Linked DNA regions of Homo sapiens: region 1 is linked to region 2. Evidence: fine-mapped expression QTL. A gene starts in region 2. The other region holds a variant in brackets. All regions are shown on one strand. Distances are from middle to middle. Region 1 overlaps PDIA3 (protein disulfide isomerase family A member 3). Region 2 holds the start of SERF2 (small EDRK-rich factor 2).

Region 1 (5,373 bases), 40 kb before region 2:
CAGGAGTTCAGACCAGCCTGGCCAACATGGGGAAACCCCATCTCTACTAAAAATACAAAAATTAGCTGGACGTGGTGGCGCACATCTGTAATCCCAGCTATTTGGGAGGCTGAGTTGGGAAAATCACTTGAACCCAGGAGGCAGTGGCGAGGTAAGAGACCAGCCTGGGCAGCATGGCCAGACCCCATCTCTACTAAAAAATGACAAAAATTAACCGGGCATGGTAGCACACGCCTGTAGTCCTAGCTACTCAGGAGGCTGAGGTGGGAGGAGAAGATCACTTGAGCCTGGGAGGTGGAGGTTGCAGGAAGCTGAGATTGCACCATTGCACTCCAGCCTAAATGACAGTGTGAGACCATCTCAAAAAAGAAAGTAAAATGGGCTTTTTTTTTTTTAACCTTATTCTCGTCACAAAATAGACCTATTTAAGCAAATTCTTTTTCCGCTTTCATGTTTCAAGTGAAAGTGAAAGGTGAAAGCTTGCTTTGCTTGCTTTTTTTTTTTTTGAGACAGTCTCTCTCTGTTGCCAAGGCTGGAGTGCAGTGGCGCGATCCCGGCTCTGCAACCTCCGCCTCCCCTGTCTGGCTAATTTTTTTTTTTTTTTTTTTTTTTAAGTAGAGACCAGGTTTCACCATGTTGGCCAGGCTGGTCTTGAACTCCTGACTTCACCTGAATCACCTGCGTTGGACTCCCAAAGTGCTGGGATTTCAGGCGTGAGCCACCGTGCCTGGCTTAGTGAAAGCTTTCTTTGCAGTTGATTTTGTAGACTAATATTTCCATTATGGAGTTAATCTGCTATATATTTTTAAGGATAAGAGTATCTGAATTTCTCTGGGGAAATAACACTATTTAAATGTTTGGAAATGTCCGAAAATTTATTGATTAGTGTTAATATGTAATATTAAGTCCTTGGCCGGGCACGGTGGCTCACGCCTGTAATCCCAGCACTTTGGGAGGTCAAGGCGGGTGGATCACGAGGTCAAGAGATCGAGACCATCCTGGCCAACATGGTGAAACCCCGTCTCTACTAAAAATACAAAAAGTTAGCTGGGCGTGGTAGCAGGTGCCTGTAGTCCCAGCTACTCGGGAGGCTGAGGCAGGAGAATGGTGTGAACCCAGGAGGTGGAGCTTGCAGTAAGCCAAGATCACGCCACTGCACTCCAGCCTGGGCGACAGCGAGACTCCTTCTCAAAAAAAAAAAAAGTCCTCAACATCTATTTATGCTATAGATGTGTATGCTACCCTCTAAGACAGTAGTAATAAATAATGGCTGGGTGCAAAGGCTCACGCCTGTAATCCCAGCACTTTGGGAGGCCAAGGTGGGCAGATCACGAGGTTCAGGAGTTTGAGACTAGCCTGGCCAACATGGGGAAACCTTGTCTCTACTAAAAATACAAAAATTGGCTAGGCACGGTGGCAGGAGCCTGTAATCCCAGCTACTCAGGAGGCTGAGGCAGGAGAATTGCTTGAACCTGGGAGGTGCAGGTTGCAGTGAGCTGAGATCATGCCACTGGACTCCAGCCTGAGTGACAGAGCAAGACTCCGTCTCGAAAAAAAAAAAAAAAATAATATATGTGCTAATTTCTTTACTTGTAATCCCCACCCCGAGTTGATCTTTTCAACATCAACATTTAGCTCATATTTTTTTTTTCCTTCCCTGGACAACTAACTGGTTGATCCTGCCTCTCTATTGGCATCTAATAATACTGTGTCACCCCTGCCAGACTGGTGTTCCTATAAGGAAAGGACTATACCAATTTTCTTATCAAAGACACTTGATAAGGCACTTATCAAAAAGTACTTGACGCATGGCACACATGATGAAGTGATGATTATGGGTGAATATATGTTGGAATTCATTATCAACTGCCAGGTGCCATCCCTGAGGATAGATAGAATTAATTGTGTTTTAATATTTTCTAGGGGTGGGTGAAAGAAGTAGTGGTTAATCTTGAAGGATGTATGTTAACCAACCCTGATTTCCCTTAAATACCACCTGAGTTCCATTCCTGCTGGATTTGAAGAGGAGAGTCTCCTCCAGCCTCATTGAAACTCTTTTTGTGGATTTGATGACCTTATGGATATTGCCAAAGTTTAAGGCAGTGGATTTTAGTCCCAGCCTTGCAGCTTACACACACACCTGGTTGCTCCCCAGATTTCTGGAGATTCTCATTCAGTAAGCCATGCATACTTTTGTTGTTTTAATGCTCTGTGGGTATTTTTGATAAGCATCTAGAGTTGACACCTACTGGCTTGACCTAGTAACTATTGTATGTGATTTTTTTCTCTTAAAATGTTTGAAGATAGTTGAAACAATTAACTCATAAATCTGTTGCCTCAGCCTTGACAACTACTATATATTCAACAGAAATCTCTCATCTGTCTCTTCTTTATTCTCATTGCTG[C/G]CATTCCGGTCCAAGCTTTTATTGTCTGCCATGTGAAATATATTATCTTCTAGATGGCTTTACTCTTGTCTCTATTTTCTCCCTTTCTGTCAGTCTTTGACATTGCTGATTGACGTAGTCTTAGTACACGTGCACGCACATTTATTATCTCACAAAAGCCCTTTACAGTTCTCTGAATGCATCATGCTTACTGGTATTCTTTTACGTTTGCTCTACTATCTCCCTCATCTTAAATACCCTGCCCTCTTCTCTCTGAAGCGTTAAATCCTTAAAGACCCAGATCCAATTGTTACTCCCTTTAAAATCCATTTACTATGCAGTATTAAAGGAATACAGAGGATATAATGAATAAGACCCTATTTCACACACATAAGATACCACTGATTGTGAGAGGAACTATCTTGTGTCTCACTGAGAAAGAAATACTACCACTGAAACTATAACATGACTGCAAAATACATCTTAATATCAGGAAAAAACAATGAATCTGAAATACAGCATAAGGAATAGCATTTGTTTGCACTCAGTCTGAAAAACATAGCCAGTACATTTGAAGTCCCCTATGTGCCCCTTTACCATCTTATACACTCCTTTATCTTGAATTTGGTATTTATCATTTGGTTCTTTTATACTTTAATAGGCCGCCTGAAGGCCTTGGAGAATAAGCTGTTATAATCCTTTATTTTAAACAAGTTTTAGGTGTACAATATTTCCAAGTTATCCATCACTTGATAAAATTACACCATTGACTATTGAAATATATCTGCTCAAGTTTCTTCTCTATTATATTTCTATTTTTGCTGTCTACGGGAAGGTTACAGAACTCACCTTCTCAACGTGATCCCTCTGCAACCCTTTGGCTTTTGAAAAGGTGATGTACAGCTGGTGCTAGCTGTATATACACTGATTAGGATTTTCTGGGCAGAGGAGCCGGTGCTTCTGGTGGCCCTCTGGGAAAGGTATTCTAGTTTACATGTTTTGTTATCACTTCTCATGGCTAGGTGAACTATGTAGCTGTAAAAATCAGGCCTGCCATCTAAAAGACTTAATATCATACTTGAGACATTACAGGGTTTCAGTCACAATTTTGTGTCCCCACCCCCACCCCGAGACAGAGTCTTATTCTGTCACCCAGGCTGGAGTGCAGTGGCGCGATGTCAGCTCACTGCAACCTCCACCTCCCAGGTTCAAGCAATTCTCCTGCCTCAGCCTCCCGATTAGCTTTGATTACAGGTGCCCACCACCACGCCTGGCTAATTTTTGTATTGTCAGTAGAGACGGGGTTTCACTATTTTGGCCAGGCTGGTCTTGAACTCCTGACCTCGAGTGATCTACTCGCCTTGGCCTCCCAAAGTGCTGGGATTACAGGTGTGAGCTTCAGTCACTATTTTTAACAACCACAATGCTGGTTTCCCAGGGAATTGTATTTTCCTCTGGGGAATTCTATCAGAAATGGGATTATTTCTATTTTGTCCTTCATTCAGCCTCATTAATTGGTCAAAAGGGCATTAACCCATTCAACCCTCTTTAATAATGTGGCGTACACCTTTGACTACAGCTTTCACAACTTAGTTATACTTTGTATTGAGAAAATAGAGCTGCCCTGTGCTGAGCCAGTACTATGGAGTCAACCTCAGTCTAGGGGTAGGACCTTTACCTCTTGAGAGTTCTGGTTTACTTTAACAATAATGAATGTTGTTCATGTGATGATTTTGCTTTTTGGAAGTGTCTACTAGCTCAAAGGTAGTATTATAGTTTGAGATTCTTCCTAGTGAGACAACATTAACAAATTCATAGGACTAAACTGAGAATTTGGCTTTTTTAATACGTATATAGGTGTGGACACTGCAAGAGACTTGCACCTGAGTATGAAGCTGCAGCTACCAGATTAAAAGGAATAGTCCCATTAGCAAAGGTAAGTACAGGTGGATTCTTCACTAAAGGACGTGAAGTATTTTAAAAAGTAGTTTGTTGTCTCAGCTTTGTTACATGGAAAAAAATAACAGTAATAAATAGTTTGTAAGATTAACATTCATTTTCTCTACTCTTATTCTGCTAAGAAGAGCGAATACTAGTTTCTGGGCAAATACACAACTGACTTGTAGTTTCAAAAGATTAAAAGTAGTGGCTGGGCGCAATGGCTCATGCCTGTAATCCCAGCACTTTGGGAGGCCGAGGTGGGTGGATCACGAAGTCAAGAGATTGAGACCATCCTAGCCAACACGGTGAAACCCTGTCTCAACTAAAAATACAAAAATTAGCTGGGTGTGATGGCACGTGCCTGTAGTCCCAGCTACTCAGGAGACTGAGGCAGGAGAATTGCTTGAACCCAGGAGATGAAGGTTTCAGTGAGCCGAGATCGGGCCACTGCACTCCAGCCTGGTGACAGAGCAAGACTCCGTCTCAAAAAAAAAAAAAAAAAAAAATTAAAAGTAGTGAGAGTAAGGAAATTACTGGCATAAGAAGTAAAATAGACCAGGTATGGTGCCTCACAGCTGTAATTCCAGCACTTTGGGATGATTACTTGAGGCCAGGAGTTTGTTGCCTGGGCAACAAAGCAAGACCTCATCTCTACAAAAAATTTAAAAAGCTGGGTGTGTTGGCTCACACCTGTAGTCCCAGCTTCTCAAAAGGCTGAAGCAGGAGGATTGCTTGAGGCTGCAGTGACTAGACACTGCACACTACTAGACTCCAGCCTAGGTGACAGAGTAAGACCCTGTCTCTTAAAAAAAAAAAAAAAAGTGTAATCCCAGTACTTTGGGAGGCCAAGGCAAGTAGATCACTTGAGACCAGCCTGGGCAACATGGCAAAATTCCATCTCTACTAAAGATACAGGCAGGCTTCCATAGTCCCAGCTACTCAGAGGCTGAGGTGGAAGGATTGCTTAAGCCAGAGAGGTTGAGGCTGCACTGAGCTGTGATTGAACCATTGCACTCTAGCCTGGGCAATAGAGCGAAACCCTGTCTCA
Region 2 (5,373 bases):
ACTGCACTCCAGCCTGGGCGACAGAGTGAGACTCTGTCTAAAAAAAAAAAAAAAAGAAAAGTACACTAAATGTACCAAATAAAAACCCACCTGATGTTAGCTAGTAGTTATATTAGCAGTAGTAACTTGGATCTTGTCACAACCCTACCTCCCTATCTGACCTAGTTTCACACCACCCTGCTCATTAGGCATTAGTGACTTGCCCTTTACCTACACAATAATCCTGTGGCTCTTGATGGGATGACCTGAGGGAGGAGGGCCTTAGGGCCTTCACACGTGCTGTTCCCTCCTGAAATGTTCTCCCTGCCCTTCCCTCCTGGGCTTGGCTAATTTCTCATCTTTTTGCTTTAGCTCAAATATCACTTACTTCACCTCCCTAATCAAAATTAAAGTCTACAGAGTCCACAGGTGTACTCCCTTCATAGCACCAGCAGTACTATTTAGTTACTTCATACCAGGTGGAATTGTTCACAGAGTCTTCATTCAAATTACACTGACATCTGTTTTTATGGGTCAGTGCTTAAGCTGTGTGCACTGCGAAACATTTTGAATATCATCCTTGCGTGGAATCTGTTATTTTCCTTTAAAGCTATTATCATGATCAGTTTTCATATATAGGCTGGGCATGGTGGTTCAAGCCTGTAATCCCAGCACTTTGGGAGGCTGGGGTGGGTAGATCACTTGAGGTCAGGAGTTCGAGACCAGCCTGGCCAACATGGTGAAACCCTGTCTCTACTAAAAAAAAATACAGTCCGAGCACAGTGGCTTGCACCTGTTATCCCAGCACTGTGGGAGGCCGAGGCAGGTGGATCACCTGAGGTCAGGAGTTTGAGACCAGCCTGACCAACATGGTTAAAGCCTGTCTCTACTAAAAAATACAAAAATTAGCCGAGCGTGGTGGCACGCACCTGTAGGCCCAGCTACTCGGGAAGCTGAGGCAGGAGAATTGCTTGAACCTGGGAGGTGGAGGTTGCAGTGAGCCGAAATCGCACCACTGTACTCCAACCTGGGCGACAGAGCAAGACTCCATCTCAAAAAAAAAAAAAAAAAATTATCCGGGCGTGGTGGCGGGTGCCTGTAATCCCAGCTACTCGGGAGGCTGAGAAAGGAGAATCGCTTGAATACAAGATGGTGGAGGTTGCAGTGAGCCGAGAGCATACCACTCCAGCCTCCAGCCTGGGTAACAGAGTAAGACTGTCTCAAAAAAAACCAAAAATTCATATATATAGACAGACATATAAATACATATATGGATATTAGAGAGAGAGAGGCAGACAGGGAGAGGGAGAGAGAGAAAGTGTGAGAGAGCTTTTTTCTCTGTATCTTTCATGATTATAGGAATATGCTGTGCTCATCAAGATATACCCAATTGTGGCTGTGCACCGTGGCTCACACCTGTAATCCTTGCACTTTGGGGGGCCAAGGAGGGCGGATCACCTGAGGTCAGGAGTTCCAGACCAGCCTAGCCAACATGATGGAATCCCATCTCCAGAAAAACAAAAATACAAAAATTAGCCGGGCATGATGGCGGGTGCCTGTAATCGCAGCTACTTGGGAGGCTGAGGTGGGAGAATAGCTTGAACACAGGAAGCAGAGGTTGCAGTGAGCCGAGATCACGCCAATGCACTCCAGCTTGGGTGTCTCTTATTAACTGTTTATTTATTATTTATTTTGAGATGGAGTCTGGCTCTGTCGCCCAGGCTGGAGGGCAGTGGCGTGATCTCGGCTCACTGCAAGCTGCTGCTCCTGGGTTCACACGGTTCTCCGGCCTCAGCCTCTCAAGTAGCTGGGACTACAGGCGCCTGCCACCACACCCAGCTATTTTTTTTTTTTGTATTTTTAGTAGAGACGGGGTTTTACCGTGTTAGCCAGGATGGTCTCGATGTCCTGACCTCGTGATCCACCCGCCTCTGCCTCCCAAAGTGCTGGGATTACAGGCGTGAGCCACCTTGCCCAGCCTTTCTTATTAACTCTTTTTTTTTTGAGATGCAGTCTCGCTCTGTCGCCCAGGCTAGAGTGCAGTGGTGCGATCTCGGCTCACTGCAAGCTCCATCTACCGGGTTCACGCCATTCTCCTGCCTCAGCCTCCTGAGTAGCTGGGACTACAGGCGCCCGCCACCACGCCCGGCTAATTCTTATTAACTTTTTTTTTAGACGGGATCTCGCACTGTCGCCTGGGCTGGAGTGCAATGGCGCGATCTCGGCTCACTGCAACTTCCGCCTCCCGGGTTCAAGCGATTCTCCTGCCTCAGCCTCCCAAGTAGCTGGAATTACAGGCGCGCCACCACGCCCGGCTAATTTTTTGTATTTTTAGGGTTTTCACCATTGTTGGTCAGGCTGCTGGTCTCGAACTCCTGACCTTCTGATCTGCCCACCTCAGCCTCCCAAAGTGCTGGGATTACAGGCGTGAGCCACCACGCCCGGCCCTCCAGGGTCTTAATACAAAACCGGGTGGCTGGTGGCGATGGTACAGTAAGAAAAGCTCCAGAGGGGAAAAGCGAATATGTGAATTATCTAATCTCAGCCACTGATCCAACTCCATAGTCTGTGACTTTTGGAGTCCTCCAATACTTCCAAGCTGCATGTTCACATTTAAAGTTTCTGGGGGAAAACGAACAGGGTAGAGTTTTAGGAAATACCAGATGTTGCTGCGATTTTCTACAGTGAAGGGGCGTGGAAGGGGACAATGGGAGTAGAAGCGGGTTTCTGAAGTTGTGTTTGTACTTGATTTTAAGCGAGCTGTGAACAACTCGTGTCCAAATAAGTGGCTGAGAGGTGGTCCTAAGTAAGCACAAGTTTAGTAGTAGAGTACTCGTAACACAGAACTGGCTGAAACCCCGCCCTCTTGTCTACGGGCGTTCTTTCAGGGCGACTTTGTCAGTACCCCAAACTGTCCCCGCATGAGGTCACTCTGCACGGTCACGTGCTCGAGCCCGCGGGAGCGCCACATCGCCAGCCGCACCCCTCCACCCCCAACCTGCCCACGTGACCCGGCCTAGTTTCTCCAGGCCCGTCCCTACGTCTCACTCGGGAAGCCCCGCCCCACGCTGAGCGCTCCGCCTGCGACCCTCCGCCACTTACCCACCCCGGCTCAAGCACGACCCGTGGATCCACGTGCTTTTTCTTGTCCAATGGGAGCCGGCTCCCGGGCGCGAAGGGGCGGGGAGGAAAGGAACGACTGTGCTACGTTGCCAGAAGGGGCGGGACCTGCAACGTCCGACAGAACGAGGGGACGTAACGGAGGCAGGTTGGAGCCGCTGCCGTCGCCATGACCCGTGAGCACCGAGCCCCCTTCTCCTTGCCCTTTTCTTTCCGTTCACCCTAAACACCACCGGCGAGGCGCCGGCTTTGACCTTCCGTAGCTTCCCTAGCAAGGCGTTTCTCTGGGCGCGCTCTGTGGCCACCCTCACACTCGGTGCCCGGAAATCGAGCCCTTTGCCCACGGCTACTTCACGGGACCACCCTCCCGGGTTAGGCATAGGCCCTCCCGGATCTTCCGCGGTGTAAGGAGAAGGCCAGCGCCCCTGTGATAGGCCCAGAGCCCCCACTCCACAAGCCAGCCCATCCCCCACGGAGACCCAAACCGTCCACACACACCTTGCCAGCTGTTTGGGCCCCACGCCGCCCCAAAACACGCCTCCAGCTGGCCCCTTGGGACCTCCCTTCTCTAGTCCGTATTTTGACCTGGCCCGTGGCAGATTCGCCACTCCCCCCTACCCCAAGCAGCCTGGGCCTCGATGGGCCGTTGTCGGGGCCCGGAGATTGAAGTGGTGTTGGATCCTGCTGCTGGCCGCGCTGGGGTAGAAGGGTCGCCGGTGTGTGGGCAGAGCGGCCCCCGCGTCTCACCTTTAATTTTCTTTCCTTAGGCGGTAACCAGCGTGAGCTCGCCCGCCAGAAGAATATGAAAAAGCAGAGCGACTCGGTTAAGGGAAAGCGCCGAGATGACGGGCTTTCTGCTGCCGCCCGCAAGCAGAGGTAGCCCCAGGGAGGGGAGGGAAAGGGACGGTGGAGACCTGGGTTAGACCAAGGGTTATAGAAGGAAAGAGAGCTACCTCAGGGCTTGAATGTGGACTAGTCGTGAGGAGCAGAGTGCATTGCTTCCTCTAGGGTTTTATTTCCTCCCCACCCTCCAAATTGTTAGCTCACAGCCTTACAGGAAAGGACGGGGGCGGGCGCCTGCCCTCAGTCTGATTTCTGAGCGTCCCTGGGTCTGACCTTAAGGGCAAGGGCAGGGAGCTTCACATTTCAAATACAGTTGTGGTTACGGCAGCCCAGTACTTTTGGCCCTCCTTGCTGTTCGGTTCTCCTCCCTTCTCCCAACCTCCTCACTGGTGTTGCTGGGTGTGGTCCTCAATACAGAATAGAGACCCTTGGGCCTGTGTCACCAGACTTCTGACCCCTTGGGCAACAGCCAGATGGAGACTGGTCGCCTTTTGAGCCTCAGCTCTCTTCCTCTTGTTCTCCTAGGGTGGGAGTACAGCAGCCAAACGCTGAACTTAGTCCCATCCACTTCCATCTTATCCTTTGTGCCCTTCATCCCCCTGCATCTTGTCCTTTTTGCCCTCTGGTACCTCCCAGTGCCCCATCATCTCTACCCCCAGGGACTCGGAGATCATGCAGCAGAAGCAGAAAAAGGCAAACGAGAAGAAGGAGGAACCCAAGTAGCTTTGTGGCTTCGTGTCCAACCCTCTTGCCCTTCGCCTGTGTGCCTGGAGCCAGTCCCACCACGCTCGCGTTTCCTCCTGTAGTGCTCACAGGTCCCAGCACCGATGGCATTCCCTTTGCCCTGAGTCTGCAGCGGGTCCCTTTTGTGCTTCCTTCCCCTCAGGTAGCCTCTCTCCCCCTGGGCCACTCCCGGGGGTGAGGGGGTTACCCCTTCCCAGTGTTTTTTATTCCTGTGGGGCTCACCCCAAAGTATTAAAAGTAGCTTTGTAATTCCTTGAGCGCCTGGTTTGACTGGGGACTTGGGGGGATGGGGTTGGAAGAATGACTGCCCTTTCCCACCAAAAAAGGGAGAACTCTTTAGATTCAGATTGTGGGTATGTAGACTTAATAAGTGAAACATCACAGAAGAAGCCTTTATTATACAATGACAACCAAACAAGTACTCCGGATATGCAGTAGAGGAATCCTCTAAGAACCATAGAGACTTCTTTTCTGTGATTTTTGTTCCCCACCCTTGAACACCATCTCTAGGATGGAGTTGGCCTAAGAGTGAATGCTGCAAGATCTGTGTTTATGCCTCTTTTCCTCATTCTTCCTCAGTTTGTTCGTCTGCTTGAAAGTTGGCCAAAAAATCCTGCTGCTCACCGACTTCCCGTGGTCAGCTGCTGTCAAGCGTTCACTTTCTCTTCTGTCATTCCTCATGGAATG

What was found. PIP is the estimated chance that this variant, and not a neighbour inherited with it, causes the effect.
Region 1: its variant is the best candidate, but not a certain one, in a credible set for the expression of SERF2 in whole blood (INTERVAL, PIP 0.60).

Annotation. Positions count from the first base shown.
Region 1 is chr15:43,749,583-43,754,955 of GRCh38, forward strand. It overlaps PDIA3 (protein disulfide isomerase family A member 3), which reads left to right. Exons shown (of 13, transcript NM_005313.5): 2 at 4,242-4,320. Among named protein-coding and RNA genes, the nearest start is that of PDIA3, 5.8 kb to the left of the region's middle. The variant C/G (reference allele first, on the strand shown) is at 2,406.
Region 2 is chr15:43,789,109-43,794,481 of GRCh38, forward strand. It overlaps SERF2 (small EDRK-rich factor 2), which reads left to right and starts at 3,212. Exons shown (of 3, transcript NM_001018108.4): 1 at 3,212-3,275; 2 at 3,867-3,975; 3 at 4,602-5,373. The coding sequence starts at 3,269. The coding sequence ends at 4,665. It overlaps SERINC4 (serine incorporator 4), which reads right to left. Exons shown (of 12, transcript NM_001258031.2): 12 at 5,054-5,373. It overlaps SERF2-C15ORF63 (SERF2-C15orf63 readthrough), which reads left to right and starts at 2,868. Exons shown (of 6, transcript NR_037673.1): 1 at 2,868-3,275; 2 at 3,867-3,975. MIR1282 (microRNA 1282) reads right to left here and starts at 4,651; the gene lies at 4,551-4,651. RefSeq lists enhancers at 1-414, 217-306, 2,707-3,906, 3,695-4,024, 4,360-5,213 and a silencer at 2,895-2,974.